4 linked regions of the Homo sapiens genome follow. The protein of the gene in region 1 interacts with the protein of each later gene in a biochemical or structural test. Each region holds a gene or a part of one and is shown on either strand. Other genes may lie near its edges.

Region 1 (5,504 bases):
GAACTATCACGCTTGTACTTCCAAAAACTTCCCTCAGCATTCTATTGTGATGAGGTTTCAAATAGTAAACCTTCAAGGATAAAACCATCCTCTACACAGAGATAATGATTTTGTCTTTTTATTTTAAAAGCCATTTGAGTTTCTTCAACAGAGTGTTCAGTGTCTCTGAAAGCACACTGAGCTTGTGCCACAAATAATGGCTTTAAAAATACATAGAAAATGCATGAATATTCCATTTTTATGTAAGGTCGACGTGCGATTAGCAATGGCTCTGGAAAACACAGCTAATCAGTAATGTGAATACTCAGTGGATTTTTGGAGATAGAAAGTAGAGTTAAAGAAAAGAAGGTAAGTGGTCCATCAGATGGGAAACAGACCCCCTGCTCTTGGAGAGGCAGTCCATAAGTGGAAGAGAAGGGGAACTGGCATAATTAAAGGATCTTCAGGTTCAGTACAAGAGTGCTGACCTATGTACACCATTAGCAGATATGGAATCTACATGTCTGTGTCATTTACTGATTTTGGCATTTGAATTCATAATTCTTTGTATTAATTTTCTTCATGTCTACATTTAACATGGAAGACCTAGAGTACTGTTTAGAGCACATCCATTTGAAAAGGAAAGGGTATTAATTTAAGGAGTGAATGAGAGGAAACCATATGGCCGTTACCTAGAGTTAAGTGGCCTTTGACTGAAAAGGATAATCACAGAAAACTCAGTTTGTATGTGAATAATTTACTCAGACTTCTTTGCCTCAAATTTTCCACATCCTTTGACAATTTTTTTGGTTAAAGATAACAGTGAAGATGACTTATGTCTTCTTAAAAAATGAGGCAAATAAGAAATCTGATAAAAAACAAAAAGTAAGTATTCATGGTGTTAACAAAGACTATGCTTGAGTTTCCTGAAAGCATCACCTGATTGCAGGGTATTTCTGTACCAATATATCCTGGCCCCAAATGACGTTTACCTGTTAGATATTTTACTTTAGCTCGTGCTCTCTCATCTGCATCAAAATACCAAACAGTTATTGCGTACCTAAAAGAAAATTTAGAATAGGATAAGAATGATCACACTGCGGGGAAAAAGTGGTATTTTGCTGCAATGGTATATTAAAACTTGTAATGCCAAAATTATGCCTAAACTGGAATGATATCAAAGGATAAATTTAACAGCTTATTTATACAGTAACCAGGGGAGACTAAAATTGATGTCTGAAGTTGATGAGTTTTTGTGACTTTCTTAATACTTATTTCAACTACTTATTTTTTGCAAGGGAACTGCAGATCAGAAAGAGACAATAGGCCGGGCACAGTGGCTCACGCCTGTAATCCCAGCACTTCGGGAGGCCGAAGTGGGTGGATCATGAAGTCAGGACTTCGAGACCAACCTGGCCAATAGGGTGAAACCCCATCTCTACTAAAAAAAAGAAAAAAAAAATTAGCCGTGCATGGTGGCACATGCCTGTAGCCCTAGCTACTCAGGAGGCTGAGAGGCAGGAGAATCGCTTGAACCCGGGGAGGCGGAGGTTGCAGTGAGCCGAGATCATGCCACTGCACTCCAGCCTAGGTGACAGAGTGAGCCTCCCTCTAAAAAAAAAGAGAGACAATAAAAGGGTAAAAGAATGGCTGTTACAGAAAAAGCACATTATCAATAGCACAAGTACTAAAAGAACAGAAAAGAAACAGATAAAAGGACTCAGGGCATTGCAGGCTAACAGTTTCAACAGTCTCTGGGGACATCACTACATTATAGCAAAGAGTAATGATGGATGTTTACAATTATAACCTTGACAGTTAAATTATGCTAAGAATTTTTAAGGATTTTAATCAAAGCAATTATACTGTGTTTTGTGTTTAAACTTTGTCTAAACTTCATTTTTCTGAAAATCTGACTTAGAATATTTCATTCCACCAATAAGTGAGGCATCTCTAGTTTATTAAATACTACAAAAGACATACTTTCTGATACAAATAATGGGGAAAATGTATAAACGCTATAGGAAGTGAAAGTACGCTACAAATCACCAGTTCCTGGGCAGAATATAGCAATTAGTTCAAATATATTGTGGATTGTGGCCAGTGGACACAGGGGAAAAGGCAACATTTATCAGACATACAGCCAGTAATATGACAGAATGAAAAATCACATAATGTATTTTGAAGTAAAGAGTCTGGGAGTTTGGACAACTGGGAGCCTGACGTTTACAGACCCCACCACTGGTGAATCACAGAGCTGAGGTCTAAGGAGGTCTCCTGACTTCCAGACCAGACTCTGCTCTTTCCAGAGTTCCACTACCTTTCTTACCATGTGGCTTCTTCTACTTTTGGGTGGCCTTGGAAATAGGAAAGGGCTCAGATACATAATTTTATGTATCTTTTGCCCATGCCCTAAACTTTTAGTCACTTAGCAATCAGAATTCTAATATCTGGATCAACAACTTACCTTATGTCATTCTAACTTTCCAGCCTTATCACCCATTCTAGATAAGATCAGAATAGGATTCTACTTCAAGAATCCTTTTCGTCGCATGATTTTCCATGCCTTAACTTGAACAACTACGCCTTTTCCCCCAGAACTTTACTAACACGACTGCACCCCTTGCCTCTCCTCACCTAGGCCAGCTGAGCCTCTCCCTTCAAAGCGCACTTGCCCGTCTCTCCAATGTAGCACCACCTTCGTTCCTCAACTCCTGTAGCACTTAGCCTCCATGCCATCTGGCATTTATTTACTATAAACTCCCAAGTATCTGTTATTTATTCATCTAAAAAGGACGTAACCAAACCAAACTCAGGATTTCATAAAAAGGAAGGTCTATGAGGCAGTTACTGTGTCAGAAAATCTTTACAGAAGCAGCAGGGGGCAGAGACAGCACTGGGATGCCACTGGGAAGAGACATGGGATTGAAAAGGGCACATCATGTGATGTGACAGTCTTTCTTTGGTTTCCATTCAGGATTTCTTACAATCTCCAGCTACAACCTGCTTAGCTTGCTACTCAGTACGTGAATTAGGATGCAGGCAACACACCTCAGAAGGCAGGAAGAAAAAAGGCACAGCTGATAATCAAGTCGTTAGAGTCAACCATCATTACTAAAGCCAACTCTCCACCCAGCGCATCTAAGCCTGTGCCTCTTCTTGCCACCCTAGCATCTCCTAAGCCAGATACAGCAAATGAATGCCGGAAGCTCACTATCAGAATGTTCCAAGACCTTTCCATAATAAAAAATAAGTATTTTTTTTTAATGTGCTATTTTTCTACAAATATTTACTTTCATGATAATGTCTACAATATCTTGTTTTCACAGCCAGAGCATTTTAATTGAGTCAGGATAAATGGTTTTTAAAAAAGCATTTGAAATAAAGCACTAAATATAATAGGTTGCAAATACCTTGTAGAAAAAGTATAATGAAACAGATGCTCATTATTTGTAAAGCTAATAGGATCATTTTTCTAACATTAACTCCCACACATGGTAACCTGTTCTCTACTTTTCTTTCTTCTGTTTTTCTCTTCACTTCTACTCTCTGGTTACCTCTGATTTTTCTACTCTGTATCCATTTTCCTATGTTGTCCCTCACCACCTTTTAAAAAACCCTTTTCCTTCTTGATCTTTCTCTCTCCCAAGTAAAATACTCTTACAAAAATCAAAGCATGGATAGTAGTTAAGAGATGCACAAAGCACGGAGAGAGTGCTAGAAAGATGGGAAGGCCTGTGCTTCCCTTTCTTCAGAGTGGCTGTGCAAAGAAAGACACATTTAGTACTAACTGTTAATGAGTCTTATATAATTATTTGAATTCAGATGACTGTGCAACATAAATCTTATACAATTATTCAAATTAAAATGACTGTGAAAAGTACCTGGCAGGAAAATACTCATTAGAAAGCTTTCACGTTTACTCTACAGATTCCCTCCTGTCCTACCATACTCTAAACCAATTTTTTCTGAAAAGGAATACTACCTTGTAGCATATGCTGGTTGTACTTCATGAGGGTTGCGACGGTCAGACCAGAAAAACAGCAGTCTATCAAATTTGGGTTCAATGTCAGCAAACTGGGCTTTGCCTTCTGGAAAAATTCGAAGTATACCTCCACTTACCTAGGAAAAGAGCCAAATATGTAAGCAGGAGTAACCAAAAATGCTACAAGATTAAATTTAGGGGGAAAAAAAGAGACAATTTCAATGTCTTAATTGGATTATTCACAAATACGTCTCAATAAAGTATGAAGATGAGCTGCAATTTTAAAAGTATATGCACTGATGCAAGGACAAATTTAGTTCTTATTTTAGGGATATTTATTTATTTATTGAGATGGAGTCTCGCTGTCACCCAGGCTGGAGTGCAGTGGCACAATCTCAGCTCACTGCAACCTCCGCCTCCTAGGTTCAAGCAATTCTCCTGTCTCAGCATCGCGAGTAGCTGGGATTACAGGCATGCGCCACCATGTCCAGCTAATTTTTGCATTTTTAGTAGAGATGGGTTTTCACCATGTTGGCCAGGCTGGACTCGAACTCCTGACCTCAGGTGATCTGCCCACCTCGGCCTCCCAAAGTGCTGGTATTACAGGTGTGAGCCACTGTCCCCAGCCATTTTAGGGATTTTTATAAATATCTGATGAAACACAAGAATGTTATCTGAATTTAAAAGTCTTAAAATGATGCTTGAAAGCTTTTAAAACTACTAAACGTTTATTTTTGTATGTTAATGATTTGCTTAACCCACCCTTCAAATAGATAGATTTCAAGAAATTTTGACAAAATTATTATTAGAAATAAATTATGTCAAATAGTTTACCATACTTTAAAATTCAATAAACAATAGGATAGTCACAAATACCTCTTACTTAAATAATTCAGTATATCAGTAGAAAGTGTCATCATTTATTATGACCATCATTATTGTCGTCGTCACCATCACCATCAGCATATAGTTCATTAGAACCTGTGGCTCTCCCTTTCCAGACTGGGCCTGATGCACAGATGACTACCTGCTTGTGAAACTTGATTCTACCCATAAAGGATTATTATTTACCTAAACACCAACTAGGCATCAAATCGCACTGGGAACTGTGGTGGGCTCTGGGTGCAGAGTAGGGAATAATGCAGACAGACTTTGTCCTTGCGGGGTTTACGATCTGGGGATAGGCAAAACCCAACCAACCAAGTAGCTCCTTACTCTTGAATAACTACACTCCTAAGCAGGTAGACTCTTAAAATTTAAAGAAACTCTAACACCTGGTCAGGACAACATGGCGTTTGAGCCTAAACCTAGAATCTATAGTTAAAGAAAAGGTTTATCAGGCTCACTGTCAGGTAAGTTAAATTCTAGCTACTTTGATACCCTTGCCAACCTTCCTCAGGTTCCAGTGTTGTTCAGAGTGATTCCCCAGGCTACTATGCAAACATCTAAAGAACCTCCAAACTGAGAACATGTCTTCTTTCCTTTTTTCCTGCTCCCTTCCCTTTGACTCAAGTCATTGGGAGTACCACAGGTGACCTGC
Region 2 (4,501 bases), about 120 Mb from region 1:
AAGCATTAGGGCCACTGCGACTGCAGTGGCATCCATTATGAAATAAATATGGTGGCACAGGAGTTAAAAATGATTACTAGAGGAACCAGAGAAATGTAGAATACAGTGCAATTTGAACTGAATGGACAAAAACAATTTCTGTTCACACTGGACCCAAGTAGTATAAGCAGTCAATGAAAAGGGCAGAAGCTGGCCGGGCGCAGTGGCTCATGCCTGTAATCCCAGCACTTTGGGAGGCCGAGGTGGGCAGATCACCTGAGGTCAGGAATTTGAGACCAGCCTAGCCAATGTAGTGAAACTCCATCTCTACCAAAAATATAAAAATTAGCTGCGTGTGGTGGCGTGCACCTGTAATTCCAGCTACTGGGAGGCTAAGGCACAAGAATTGCTTGAACCTAGGCGGCAGAGGCTGCAGTGAGCCAAAATCACACCACTGCATTCCAGCCTGGGTGATGGAGTGAGACTCTGTCTCAAAAAAAAAAAAAAAAAAAAGGCCAGAAGCTGAGGGATTCTTTTTAATCTATAAAACAGCAAATTTGCAGAGGATTCCTACTTGGTGGGCTAGAAAGAACTAATTCATTTAATATAATTGTCTATAGTTTATGGTTATGGAAGGCCATCTTTTGATTTTGAGATAAAAGACTCCAAAGGAGCAAACTAGAACTAAATTAGAATTTTAAATAAAATTGTCTTTATATCCAAAACATTGTGGATATTTAAATAGCTACAAATGTGCACCTTGTAGAGTTTCTTCCACAACAGCAGCATTTGATGCACTCCTTTTTAAAGTTCTTATTCTCTGCACAGGTCCTTAAACAGGCTACGTGATTATTTAGAAGAATGCCAAAGAAGACACTGTTTCAGGTCTTTCACTTTGACAACAAGCAAATTTAGCATAGAAGGCCACAATTACTCTAGAAAGTCTTGTTTAGTCAGCCGGACGTGGTGTATCATGCCTGTAATCCCAGCACTTTGGGAGGCCGAGGCGGGCAGATCATGAGGTCAAGAGATTGAGACCATCCTAGCCAACATGGTGAAACCCTGTCTCTACTAAAAATACAAAAAAATTAGCTGGGTGTGGTGGCGTGCACCTGTAGTCCCAGCTACTTGGGAGGCTGAGGCAGGAGAATCGCTTGAACCCCGGAGGCGGAGGTTGCAGTGAGCCGAGATAGCGCCACTGCACTCCAGCCTGGGCGACAGAGCAAGACTCCGTCTCAAAAAATAAATAAATAAATAAAAAATAAATAATAAAAAAATAAGCCTAATTTAGTCTTAAAAGTAAGAAGATTATCTAAAGGTGCATGCATATTTATAGTCCCCACAAAATTATGTGAACTAGTACGTCTTCTCTTCAGGCAGGGGCAAGACGATGTAATAGTTTATCATCTGTCTTAACATTTAGGTCCTTCCTACCTTGTTTCTCTGAAACACAAAAGTAAAAAGACCTCTAGGTTGGTTCTTTAATGTGTTCACATTTTATAACTTAGAGAACAGGATTATTGGTACAATAGGCCTTTAGTAATCCTCCAGTTGCAATACTTAACCAGTGGAGCACATCTCCTCACTAGGGGGCTTTTTCAAACGCTTCCCTAGTTTCTAATAAATACAAGCCAAGGGCAGCATGCCTCCTAACTTCTCCCAGTCGATAATCATCACCACAGTGAGCTCCTCTTACAGAGGGGAATGTGGCATCTCTCTCAGTGTGTTGGGGAAAAGATTTGAGGACCAGTGTATACTCACCATTTTGGCAGTTTTGGTTGGTGAAGGAGGACCTTAAAAAAAAAATGAACCAAAGTTTAAAACCAGAGGATGCATTCCCAGATCACAAATACTGCTAATGTTTACGATAAAACTAGCTTCAACTTTTAGTACGCTAGTAAATTCTGTGTCTAACCTCCTATGTACCAGGCATTATACATATATTATCTCATTTCATTTTTATAACAATCTGAAGGCACAAATGTTATGACCATCTTACAGAGAAGGTAAACTAAGATTCTTTCCTATACCAAAGAACCAGTAAGTGGCAAGGCAGGAAACTGACATCAAACCTGTGTGACATTGAACTTTGGTGTCTTTGTTATACTTGTTGAAGCCCTGGATTACTCTCAAGCACTCACAAAGAGATTTCTACCTTACTTGGAGCACATTCCACCATCACTCAGAGAAGAAACCCATGTGAATCAAAGAAACGAGAATAAGAAACAACTCCCAAAGAAGCTGAAGTGCTCGTTTGCCTCAATAGTGAAAAGTAAAATCCAGAGAGATAAAAGAGTAAGTGGCTTTTATTCTTTAAGATACTAGTCACTTATAAGTATGGATTTAAGAAAGCATATTAAAATTCAACTTTGTGATTATTCCTTGGAACTGAATTTGTAAATGTCTGGGAGGAGTTCATGTCAGCTGATGACCTTGGAAAATAAAAATTATATTTCTCTCACATAAGCACTGTGTGGTTTAATTAACATTTACAGTCAGATACTAGAGCTTAAGATGAAAACTTTATGAGCACATGCTATCATGATTGCCTCTGCAGAACAGATTAATACACCATCCAACATTTTACTTATCCACAGAGATGCTAGCTCTTTCAAAACATCTTTGGTGCATTACAGAGGTCCAGATGACACACCATTGGTTGAAAGAGTCAATTTCTATTACTGTCATCAACAGAGAAATGAAATTAAGAGGATGTATTTCATTTGAAGTATCACAATGCTGTGACTCTCTCTAATCATTAAAGCCATGAATCAGATTTTCAAAAGAATACAGAGGGAAATAAATCCATAATGGACATGAATGAAATCACTAATAATTTTTTAAAAACTGCTGAAAAAGACACTGCTTATGGAAACAATCAGACAGAACCTTAAGGAAAATGCACACTAATTACTAGTTAAGTCTGCTGGGAAAACACATTCTAAACTGTAAGGAAAGACAATCAGTAGATATAAACGCTTGAACACTGAAACTTTTTCTATGTTGTGCTTTTACTTACCTCCTCTTAAGATAAGCAATGGTACATCAGCACCTACTGGAAACTGCTTTAGCACCTCTACCACTTGGAGATGTGTTAAATTCTGCACATTTTGATGGTATATTTCCTTAATTATATCTCCTTTCTGAAGGCCTTGACACCACTGACTATCCAGTATCATTTTCACCTTCTGTCCAGTAGGGCTGTCAGCAATTGCAAACCCAAACCCTTTAGGGCCCTTAATCAAAGGGATAGTCACTAGTTCAGGCTGGGAGCTGCCTGACGATGCCATGGATACTCTCTGCTCACTTGCATCTGATGGTCCATTGAGACCATCACCAGTCAAAGTGTGTCCCGATTTTCCATTCTGCTCCAGAACCATTGCTCCTGGCTTAAAATCCTGAGGATTCATGCAAGTCTCTCCCTTGGTTAATGACTGTCCATTGATGACAGGGGTAGCAGCAACAATGTCCACAACAGGATCTTCACTGTCATCAGGAAGTGGATAACCACGACATAAAGTGAGGTTTACATACTGATTGACAGGTACCAATTGAAACATCTGGACAACATCTGCATGAGTGTGACCGAGGACACAGTTGCCATTGATGTCTACAATAACATCGCCTGGAAAAACATAATCATGTTAAAAATATTAAAATCAACAAATAAGTTAATTTTTTTGCTAGAGGGGCAAAAATAACTACAATTTAGCAACTAAATTTGAATTTTGGAAACCTCTATTAACTGCTGAAAAGATAGATTTCTAACACAGACCTTCTCCCTTTTCTAACTCCTCTCTAAAATGTATGTATAAATGTCTAAAATCCTACTTATTTCAGTAGCAAAGAATTTTGACTTCAAGCTCAAGTGAATCATTAAAAAAAAAACCCTGATAATTTATATTATCATTGTTAGTATACCCTCTGAGTCATATCTAAGTATCCATGCAAAGCTAGGCACATTGCAGTAGGTATTTAGTACAGAAGCAAATAACTCCACTGACTACTTGTACAAACTGTATTATATTTTTTGAATAAATTAATTTTATTTATATATCTGTATGTATGTATATATACATACACTGAAAAAGACGCTGTCCTTAACCAAACTCTAGACAGGTTCCTCTGAGCTCTTTTTTCAGTAGGCCTCATCCTTGGCATGTCCTCCAGAGCCCAGCTTTAGCAGGAATCCTGCTAAGTTGGTTTAGCCAGAATCACCCACTCTTGATATATGATCTAAGTCCTCATTCCCCACCATTCTCCAGGTGATTACCTGATCACCTCAGCCTGCATTCAGCAAGAATCCTGTCAAGTTCCTATAGCCCCTATAGCCAGAAATCCTCCTCCACCCCTGATATATATATAGATTTATATATATCTCATATATATTTATATATCATATATATAATATATATCTCATATATATTTATATATCATATATATAATATATATCTCATATATATTATATATATCATATATAATATATCATATATATTATATATATCATATATATTATATATCA
Region 3 (4,501 bases), on another chromosome or scaffold:
TGAGACCCTCTGTATATTCTCTCAGCTCTGAAAGGCTTTCATAAGGAGAAACAACACACAGTATGAACAACAATATTAAAAAGAGGTAACAGTGATTGTATAATTACTATGTCCCAGGTGTGGTGCCAAGCACTTATGTGCATATTATTTGATGCAACAAATCTATGAGTAGATACTAGCATACCTTCACTCTACAGATATTTCCCAGCAGTGTAAGAATAATAAATAAAACTAATAAATGCAGAGCTACTTTGATCAGAGGGAAGACCAAGCCCCAGCCCTACAGCAGGGACCCTATGGCACGTCTGACATCCTCTTGGTTCTGCATAGAAGGTCTCATCCATCTCCTAATTTCAACTGACAAGGAATCTGAGGGTGAGCATGGAAAGAACCTGCTCATAGTCAGAATCAGTGCCTAAGCTGAGACTAGGACCCAGACATCCTAACTCCCTGACGAGGGAGTTGAACCCACGTGCAGAGTACAAGTGGATTCCATTTGGAGAGTAAGAATTCCTGATGGATAATTTCCTGGCCTCATTCTGGTCTTTCTGAGTAACCGCAGGACATTTCAGATGTGCATCAACCTTCCAAATCTCCACAGGCGTATGTCAGCCCTCATGAGCAATTCACCAGGGAGCCAGTCCCACCTCCTACCTCCCAGCCCTCCTGAAGCCAGATGTTGTGAAAACTCCTCCTTAATGTGAAAGGCAGAGGTGTAATACCTACAGACAGACACACACACACTCAGACATCTGCACACACATGGAAAGAAAGAGGCAGAACAATTCTTTAATCAATATATCTGGGAATTTTTTAAATTATATATAGGATTATTTTTAAAAATAAAGATGAGAAAGAAAAAGATGAGAAAGGTAAAGAGAAACACCGGGTGTAGAAACTCACTTGAGCGAGAACCCTGTGTCCAAGGCAGATGTTTCAGCAGAACCATTTGCAGCTGAGTCTTCGTTGGATGATGATGTTGGAGATGCCCCTTCCTTGGGGATGCAGGGAGTCTGGGCACAGGAGATAGAAGATGGAAGGCACAGCAAGGATTTCATGACAGCCGATGACACTTGGCTGCTGATAGAATAGAGTTTGCTGGTCTTTTCGTCAAGTAGCTTCGTCTCACAGGACTGGGACCTGGTCAGGGGGAAGCTCCGTGCTCGCTGGCTAGGCATCTTGAGCACTGGGCCTTGAGATTCCTCAGCCTGTGTTGACAGCAGCCTTAGGAGCGGGTCCGGGCCAGGGGGGAGAGTTTTCTGATTGGGCTGCCGCCCTGGGGGAGGGGACTCAGACACACCTGGGTCTCTGGCCTCGGAGGCTGCAGGGGACCCCGAGGACAGTACTTGCTCAGGCTGCTGGGGCACAAGAGTGGGTGCAGCCCCTCGCCCCAAGAGTCCAGAAAACCGTCCTTCCTCATGCTTCCCAAGAGGTTTTGCTGCCTCCCCAGAGGAGGGCTGGAGGCTCAGTCTCTGGGCTCCTTTGTCAGGCAGTTGAGAGGAGCCAAAGGTTTCAAAGGAGCTGATTCTCTGCCTGATGGAGGAGGAGGAGGAGGAGGCCCGGATGTGTGATCCTAGGTGCTCCCTGGAAGCAGGTGCTGGCTGGGTGGACAAGGCAGGATCAGGGAGCCCTCTTGGGTCTGAAGCACGATTCCTCAAACCTTTCAAGCTTTGGCGAAACCAGGCTGGCTTGGGAGCCACAGGAGGACCTTTCTTCACAGTGCTGCTGTCTGCTGACTTGTAAACTTTGGGAGTGCCATTGGCGGTGTCCAGCTTTGGTGGGGTCCCATCTGGGTGGCCCTGTGTCCCTTCTTCTTCATTCAGGCTGGCATTGGGCTGTAGAGGCATGTGGCCATGGTTCTCACTCATGATGGGGCTAAATAAGTTTTTGATGCAGTCAGAAATCCTAACCCAAGGGTCTTCGGCTGTGGTATCAAAGCTATAGTCCATCCGAGCCTGCCTCTTAAGCAGTGGGTGTTTTATCGGGGATGTTTGGGTCACTACAGTGCAGAAACAAGGCCAAAGCTGTGCATTACATCATACAGTGACTTTTCTTCCTAAATTCTAGTTTCCAAGCTGAACAGCAAGAAGGATTCAAGAGGAGGAGATTAGCAGAAGTGGGGGACACCCAGGTGGGTGAACTCCAGGTGCTATTACCTGACTGAGCTGCCAACAGGCAGGAGTGAAGGACCAGAAGTAGGAGTTAATCTCACAGTATCCTAGTGTTTTAGGCCTGGAAGGGTGCTCAGAGAATATCTGGGCCGACCTCTGGCATATTACATTTCAAGAAGGGTAAGGGGCCATCTGATGGCAGTGCTCAGGCAAGACCCTGTGTCTCCTGACTCTTGAAGTTCATGTCCTTTCTACTGCACTAAGGAGCCTCCAAGATACCATGTTAAATGTGTAAAAGCCAAAGCAGTTCTCCTGCCGTTTAAACTTTTAAGACAAAGGTCATGAGTTGGCAGCTGTTTGTGCTTTGACCTACCCGTGTCATTAAAAACAAGGTGCCTGTGCACAGCTTCTGATGGGGCCACTTCGGCTTCCCACAGCTCTTCACGCTCCCTCTCACCCAGCCAGCATTTCCCATGTATGTACCTGCCTGGCCCTGAAGCCGTGTGTTTGCTGCTCTGCCTATACACAGGTCATTGATCAGCTTGCTCTCGGCAAAGGAGTGTTTTCCCTCCCTCAAAAGCTGATGAAAAGGTTCCAGGTAGAAAGGAATCTGTGAAGTAGGATTCTCCACCTTGGCTACATACTGGAATCTGGAGGGCCCTGAAAAATACTGACGCCCACCCCTAGGTACTGACTGAAGATACCTGGGATGCAGCCTGGGTGTTGGGAATGTGATGAGCAGGGGATTGCAATGTGCAACCTGCTCTGTGCCAGCCAGGACCTCAGGCATGCCCTGGAGCACATAGGAGTCTTTCTCAGAAGCCAGCATTGAACCAGCATCATATCTGCATGGGTAAGGGAGAGGGTGTCCTGGCTCTCTTTCCCAGGGGCAGAGGGAGGCTGGCCTGTGTGCCTTGGGGGATGCTTGCTACTGGAACGCAACCCAGTTGAAGGAACTCTGATCCCTCCTGTCCCTTGTCTCAATGCCAGGTTTCAAAAGAAGTGAATCATGGAGCATTACACCTTGATGATATCAAAGAGAAATTCTGCACAATCTAAGAGACTGGCCTTGGGCAAGTGAGCCCAGGCCTCCAGCCTGTTTCTGCATTTTTGAATGGCTTGGCTGTAAGGTGCTGTTGTGAGAATCAGGAGGCAGAGGTTCCACAGGCAAGCCCTTTGCAGATTGGAGTGACAACCTCCTGTCAGTTAAACACTGAGGCGTTTGCTTTTGCTAGAATGTTCCTCAATTAGGGTGACTAAGGGAGAGGAGCCTCCACCCACAGGGCCTCTGCTCTGGGTGAGATGTGCTAGATCTTTCCAAAATGTCCCTTAGCCCTCCAAAAGTCTTTCATGAGCTTTTCTGTAGTGTTACTCAAACAGTCATATGTTTTATAGTCTATATGTTTATTTCCTGCCACTACTAGTTGCTCCTTGGAGGCAGGACCTGACTACCTGGTCTCATCCCTTTCTCTCTCTCCCCCCAGCATCTAGCACAGGGCCTCACGAAGCCAGCATTCAATGTGTGCTTGCTGAATGCATCATATGCTTGGGGTCTACGTGCTCTTCCACACATTGCTGATGAGTGAATCTGGGCTCAGAAAGGCAAAGTAGGTTGCTCAGAATCATACTAATGACAGACAGATCCAGGATTCCCTGACTTCAAGTCCTATGCTCTCTCTAGCAAGCAAATAAATATTCAAGTCATGTCTTAGCATTGTCAGGTGTACCATGTGGACACACCCTTGCTATCCACCTCATGGAGGAGGTGACCACTGGTAGATGCTATTTATACTTTTCTGGCGTTGCATTCTCTGACTCAGAAATCCTGAATGCAGCAGGACTGTTGCAACTGGAATGTTGGCACCCTAGAGGTAGCTGCCCAGGATGGCTGGGTGGGTGTGTCTTTGGACCTCTTCCAAGGGCTCCATCCTCCCAATTATCCAGAATGGCCTGCATTCCTGCTGCCACCCCCACAGCATCACCCGTCCACCCAGGAGGCTCCCCACCCTGGACAGCACCTCCACGGTGCTGCTGCCCAGCACCTGGAACCCTTGACTGTTGATCAGCCAGGTCCAGTGGTGATGTCAATGCAGAGCACTCTGATCCTCAGGCCAATTTGTGCTCTTATCTTATCCCTGCACCTTTTTTCAAAAGACCCTTCCTTTTGGAAGATCTCAATGAAAGCTTACCTGGGCTGGCTCTTCTCCACCCTGGCTCGCCCTCTGTGGAGGACTTGGTCTGTGGGCCGATACCAGGTCCTGGGCAGCCGGCAGAGGCACTAGGGCTTCTCCCTGCTGTGTCTTCCTGTGGTAGCAGCAGTGGCAGCAGCTCTCTCGCTTCCTGTGGTGTAAACAGGAAGCGAGACCATGTCAAAACGGTAGCCTCAAGCT
Region 4 (4,501 bases), on another chromosome or scaffold:
GAGTCCTAAGCTCAGCCCCTTCTCTTCAGGGGCTTCCTGAAAGAGTGGCACTTACATAGGCTTTCTCTGCCATCACAATGTGGATGTGTAGCCCATACAGGGCAGGAAAAAATAGAATGGGTACCATCAGCCCACGCAGGGACTGCTTAGGGCACGTACCCACCTCTGCAAGGATGCAGACACTCCGGGGCCTGTGCCGCTGGGCTCTCGCTGCTTGTCCCACGCAGCCTCTTCCTGAGCAGGTAGCTTCTGTTCTGCTGCACAGAGGAGCTTTCCTCCACAACTCTTTTCTCCACCTGGGGGTCAAGTGCATCACACATCCACATCCCAAGATAAGGAGGGGGCGTTTTTATAGATACATGCAAACTGGCTGTCAGACTGAATCAATGTGGAATTGTCTGCCCTATACGGTGACCTAAAGATGTGTTCTCTGGCACCCAGAATGTGCTCTGTGCCCACCCCCTGCATGCACCCTGAAGGCACTTCACTCCCCACTCCAGACCTGCACACTCACACACATCTGTGCCTTTGCTCATGCATTCCCTCCATGGCTACAGCCTCCCCAGAAGCTCCTCTGTGCCCACAAGACCCAGAGCTGTGTGCTTTCTACTTCTAAGCCTCTCTACCTCTGCCGTCTGATCACCTTCCCTTATCACTGCACTCACACCTGGCTCTGTTGCATCATGTTCCATGAGTGTGCTGCTTGTCTGTCTCCCCCAACATCTCTGTGTGCTTTATGCACCACCGTAGCACACCTAATGCAGTGCCCAATGAATGTTGAATACGTGACTGACATCTACCTTGCAGATCCCTGACGGAAATGTTGCAGGTCAGTACACTGTCTATCCAAGGACAATGGCACACCAGTGGATGGTAGACCTCAGTATCTTTCAAATAAATATAGTCCATTTCCCCCACCAAATCCTCTGGCTCAATTCATAGGAGCCACATGTTCCTATGCCAAGAGAGAAGGGGTCCAAGAAGGAGGCCTTCTCTGATGGCAGAGGCCTTCTCTGATTGACTGTTGCCGCTGTCCACCCTGCTGTCCCCACATCTCCATCCACTTTGGCCCTCATTAATCCTGCTCTCAGCTCTCCAACTTGTCCCTGGACAAGTGCAGCCACTCAACTGGCCTCTAGCTTACCTGTCTCTGGTTCCTCCCAAATACAAACTTCCTTACATTTTGTGCCATAGGCACCTCACTTGCCCATCCTATCCCAGCTCCACTCAGGTCTCATGGGGGACCAACTCCATGGTGCCATTCCTGCAACAGAGCTCCCCAGGGGGCCAGGCTGGGCCTGTCTCCAGCTGAGACTATATCCTTCAACTTGTCAGCTGTACTACCATCACTCCCCTCTCCCAGGAACATTTCCCCAGTAAATAACTTGCACAAGAATCCCTGTCTCTGGGTTAGCTTGGAGGGAATCCAACCTAAGCCAAATGCCTCCCATGTGCCAGGCCCCTTGCTGCACTCTGTGGAGTGCACAGGGCAGCAAGCAGCACAGTGTGACAAGCACAACAAAGGACACCCCACAGGTATAAAATAGCAGAGGGGAGGGTACCCAGGGACCACAAAAACGAAGTCGGGGAAGGCTTCTGTGCAGAACCTAGAGTTGAATTTTGATAAGAAAACTGAATCATGGGTTCTAAACATTATTGCTTTATGTAAGGACGCACTTGCAAAGATGTCAAGGGTCTTAGCCATGTGACAAACTGGGGCTTGCCTAAAGGTCTTTGTTAGCACTGCCCAATAGAACTGCAATGACAAGAATGTTCTAGATCCACCCTGTTCAATAGGGTCATCACCTGCTACGAGTGGCAACGGAGCACTTGAAATGTGACAGATGTGACTGATTAATTTAATTTTTTATTTTATTTTAGTTAATGATAATATAACTAATTCAAATTTTAATAGCCACACATGACCAGCAGCTACTGCTTGAAAAGCACGGTTCTCTACTGACCTCAGAAATGGTACCCAGAACCAAGCCAACCAGCCTTCTGATGTGGAGACCAGCAGGGGCTGGGTAGACAGACACTTCTTTCTCATGAACCCGACAAGCTTCCAGAACCGACTGCAACGTGCACCGCCTGTGAGGCTGGTCTTCACACATGGTCAGCAGGATGGAGTGCAGGGGCTCGCAGAGCTGCAGGGGCTGGAGGCAGACAGGGCCGGTGAGAGGAGAGAGCAGCCAGAGCTGCCACTACGAGGCCAGCACCTTGTCAGGCAGGCCTTGGAGACATGGAAACGGGTGTTCCCACAAGCACCAGAGCAGATGCCTGCCCCTTCTGGAGAGTTTAAGGACAGACACAAGATCCATCACTGAGGCCGCAAAGTGCGGAGCAATCATCTCTGCAGCAATTCTGTGTTGTCTGCTGCTTTCTAAACCAGAACATCCTTCTGCCCAAGCACATGCTTGGAATGCTCATGAAAACTAGATGCTTTGACAAGATGGATTTCCACCTGTGCCAAGCACCCCAAATCAAACCAGAGGTCAGCCTTTCACTCAAGTTCACCTGCGTAGCTTGTCATTGTATCCAATCACTCAGGGGGTCTCACTTGGCCTTTCCCCTGGAATGTGAGCTCCTGGAACATACAGACTGTGGCCTATTCCTGTTCACTTCGGAACAGCCAGCAGTCAGCACAAATGCTCAATCGTTGTTGGTTGAACTTTATGTCACGTGTACACATCGAGCAAAAGAAAACAGAAGCATCTTATAAGCATTTCCCTCATGCATTTAAATGACCACAATTCATAGGAGAAAGTCCTCAAATTCAGATTCAAAATCAGACTTTTTCTCAAGCTCAACACACACTGCAGGTCACTTTCCAGATAAAGGCTGCACTACCGCTTCTTGCTGGGGAGCATCAGCTGTGAGCACCTATCTCTGTGTACAGCCAAGCTGCTGAGTCCTGCCGTCACAGTAAATCCAGGCGTCTTTTGTGCCTGGTGCTGCACAGCCACACCAGATACAGTCCCTGCCTTCAGGAAAATAATGGTGTGATGAGAGAGACGGTCACTAAAAGAGACAAAGACCATAGAGGATGACAAGGACTTTCACCTTGGGAAGCACAGGCCATGGCACTAATGTAGAGGAAGGGGCTTAGCCAAGGCTAGAGTTAACCAAGAGGAAAGTGGGGAGTGAGGTGCTGGTGAAGGGATCCGTGTGTACAAAGGCACGAAGATGCAGATGAGCTGACATGCATCTGAAGGGAAGGGGATTATGAGCAGGACAGGGGCCTGGGGGAAAATAGCAATGTGGGGTCCCTTGTTCAAAATTATTAAGAATTCCAGGACAGTGATAGCAGAGCATTAAACTAAGTGCAGGACCCTGTGCTATGACACAGGGTCACACACTCAGGACACACACCCAGGAAGCCGGTCCTGATTATGGCAGAGTGCCAAAGGGGAACCAGACGGGAGCAGGGACCCTATCCTAGGCTCCAGGTGTGTCTCACTGAGAAGTCAGAAGGCAACCCCACGGCCAGTGAGGCGTTACAAAAGGTTGCATGTGAGAGTGGTCGTGAGCTGGTCTCTTAGAAAGACCACCCAGGAAGAGCCCGGATGTTGAATTGGAGAGGGTCGGGGTGAGTAGAAAGAAAGGCAGGAAGGAAGGGAGGAGGAGGGAGGGATCCAGTCTAGCCAGGTCAGCTAGGCAGGGCTCTCCAGCAGGTGTTCTTGTGGCACCAGTCTCTAAGGAATTGTTATAGTATCAGATGGAAATGTACACAAACACTTCTATTCTGTAGTTGAAAATTGTGTAAAATATTAGGATATTTTTATGTAGTTCTTTTTTGAGACAGGGTTTTGCTCTGTTGCCCAGGCTGGAGTGCAGTGGTTTGATCTCCACTCACTTCAACCTTCCCCTCCCGGCCCCCGGGGTTTAAGCGATTCTCATGCCTCAGCCTCCCAAGTAGCTGGGACTATAGGCATACACCACCACACCCAGCTAATTTTTTTATTTGTAGTAGAGACAGGGTTTTGCCATGTTGGCCAGGCTTGTCTCGAACTCCTGAGCTCAAGTGGTCTCCCCACCTCAGCCTCCCAAAGTGCTGGGACTATAGGCGTGAGCCACCATGGCCAGCCAGGATAAAGTTAAGTTTCTAAGCTTTAAGCCTTCTTGTAGTTTTTAAAAAATGACTCTAAAAAATCTTTGAGAGGGAGATATTGTAGGGAGCATTTACCCAAATCTATTGAGCCCAGAAGCCTTTTTCAGGGAAGCATCTCACTTTGGGAAGGGTTGTTTTAAAGCCTTTTTAAAATATATGTAAATCTGTATCTTCAGTGTCTATAAAATTCTCTAGCTTGCTATTAATACTTCCTCTGAGCGGAGATGGCCAAACTTATCCTGCTTGCCAGTCCCAAATTGTGGCTGCCTGGAGTGCTATGTTGAGTGGGATTCTGAGGTTGTTTCTGCACTAGCAGGAAGGAGTTGTGTGATAAGTTCTCAACGCCTGCCTAGGACCTAGAGGACGGGAGAGTGGCATTATGTGTGCTCA

Evidence for each region.
Region 2: the proteins of EGLN1 (region 1) and MAGI3 interact in a test that uses a peptide from one of them, tested with the Homo sapiens proteins (one large-scale study listed by IntAct).
Region 3: the proteins of EGLN1 (region 1) and IL16 interact in a test that uses a peptide from one of them, tested with the Homo sapiens proteins (one large-scale study listed by IntAct).
Region 4: the proteins of EGLN1 (region 1) and FRMPD2 interact in a test that uses a peptide from one of them, tested with the Homo sapiens proteins (one large-scale study listed by IntAct).

The regions. Positions count from the first base shown.
Region 1 is NC_000001.11:231,366,598-231,372,101, forward strand, and holds part of EGLN1 (egl nine homolog 1), read right to left. Parts: intron 4,102-5,504; coding exon 3,965-4,101; intron 3,247-3,964; exon of another isoform or gene 2,957-3,246; intron 1,040-2,956; coding exon 972-1,039; exon of another isoform or gene 970-971; intron 1-969. UniProt on the Homo sapiens protein: Cellular oxygen sensor that catalyzes, under normoxic conditions, the post-translational formation of 4-hydroxyproline in hypoxia-inducible factor (HIF) alpha proteins.
Region 2 is NC_000001.11:113,641,014-113,645,514, reverse strand, and holds part of MAGI3 (membrane-associated guanylate kinase, WW and PDZ domain-containing protein 3), read right to left. Parts: intron 3,605-4,501; coding exon 2,999-3,604; intron 1,773-2,998; coding exon 1,741-1,772; intron 1-1,740.
Region 3 is NC_000015.10:81,296,878-81,301,378, reverse strand, and holds part of IL16 (pro-interleukin-16), read right to left. Parts: exon of another isoform or gene 4,452-4,501; coding exon 4,301-4,451; intron 2,076-4,300; coding exon of another isoform or gene 2,032-2,075; exon of another isoform or gene 2,000-2,031; coding exon 904-1,999; intron 36-903; coding exon 1-35. UniProt on the Homo sapiens protein: Interleukin-16 stimulates a migratory response in CD4+ lymphocytes, monocytes, and eosinophils. Primes CD4+ T-cells for IL-2 and IL-15 responsiveness. Also induces T-lymphocyte expression of interleukin 2 receptor. Ligand for CD4.
Region 4 is NC_000010.11:48,240,197-48,244,697, forward strand, and holds part of FRMPD2 (FERM and PDZ domain-containing protein 2), read right to left. Parts: intron 2,157-4,501; coding exon 1,965-2,156; intron 297-1,964; coding exon 164-296; intron 1-163.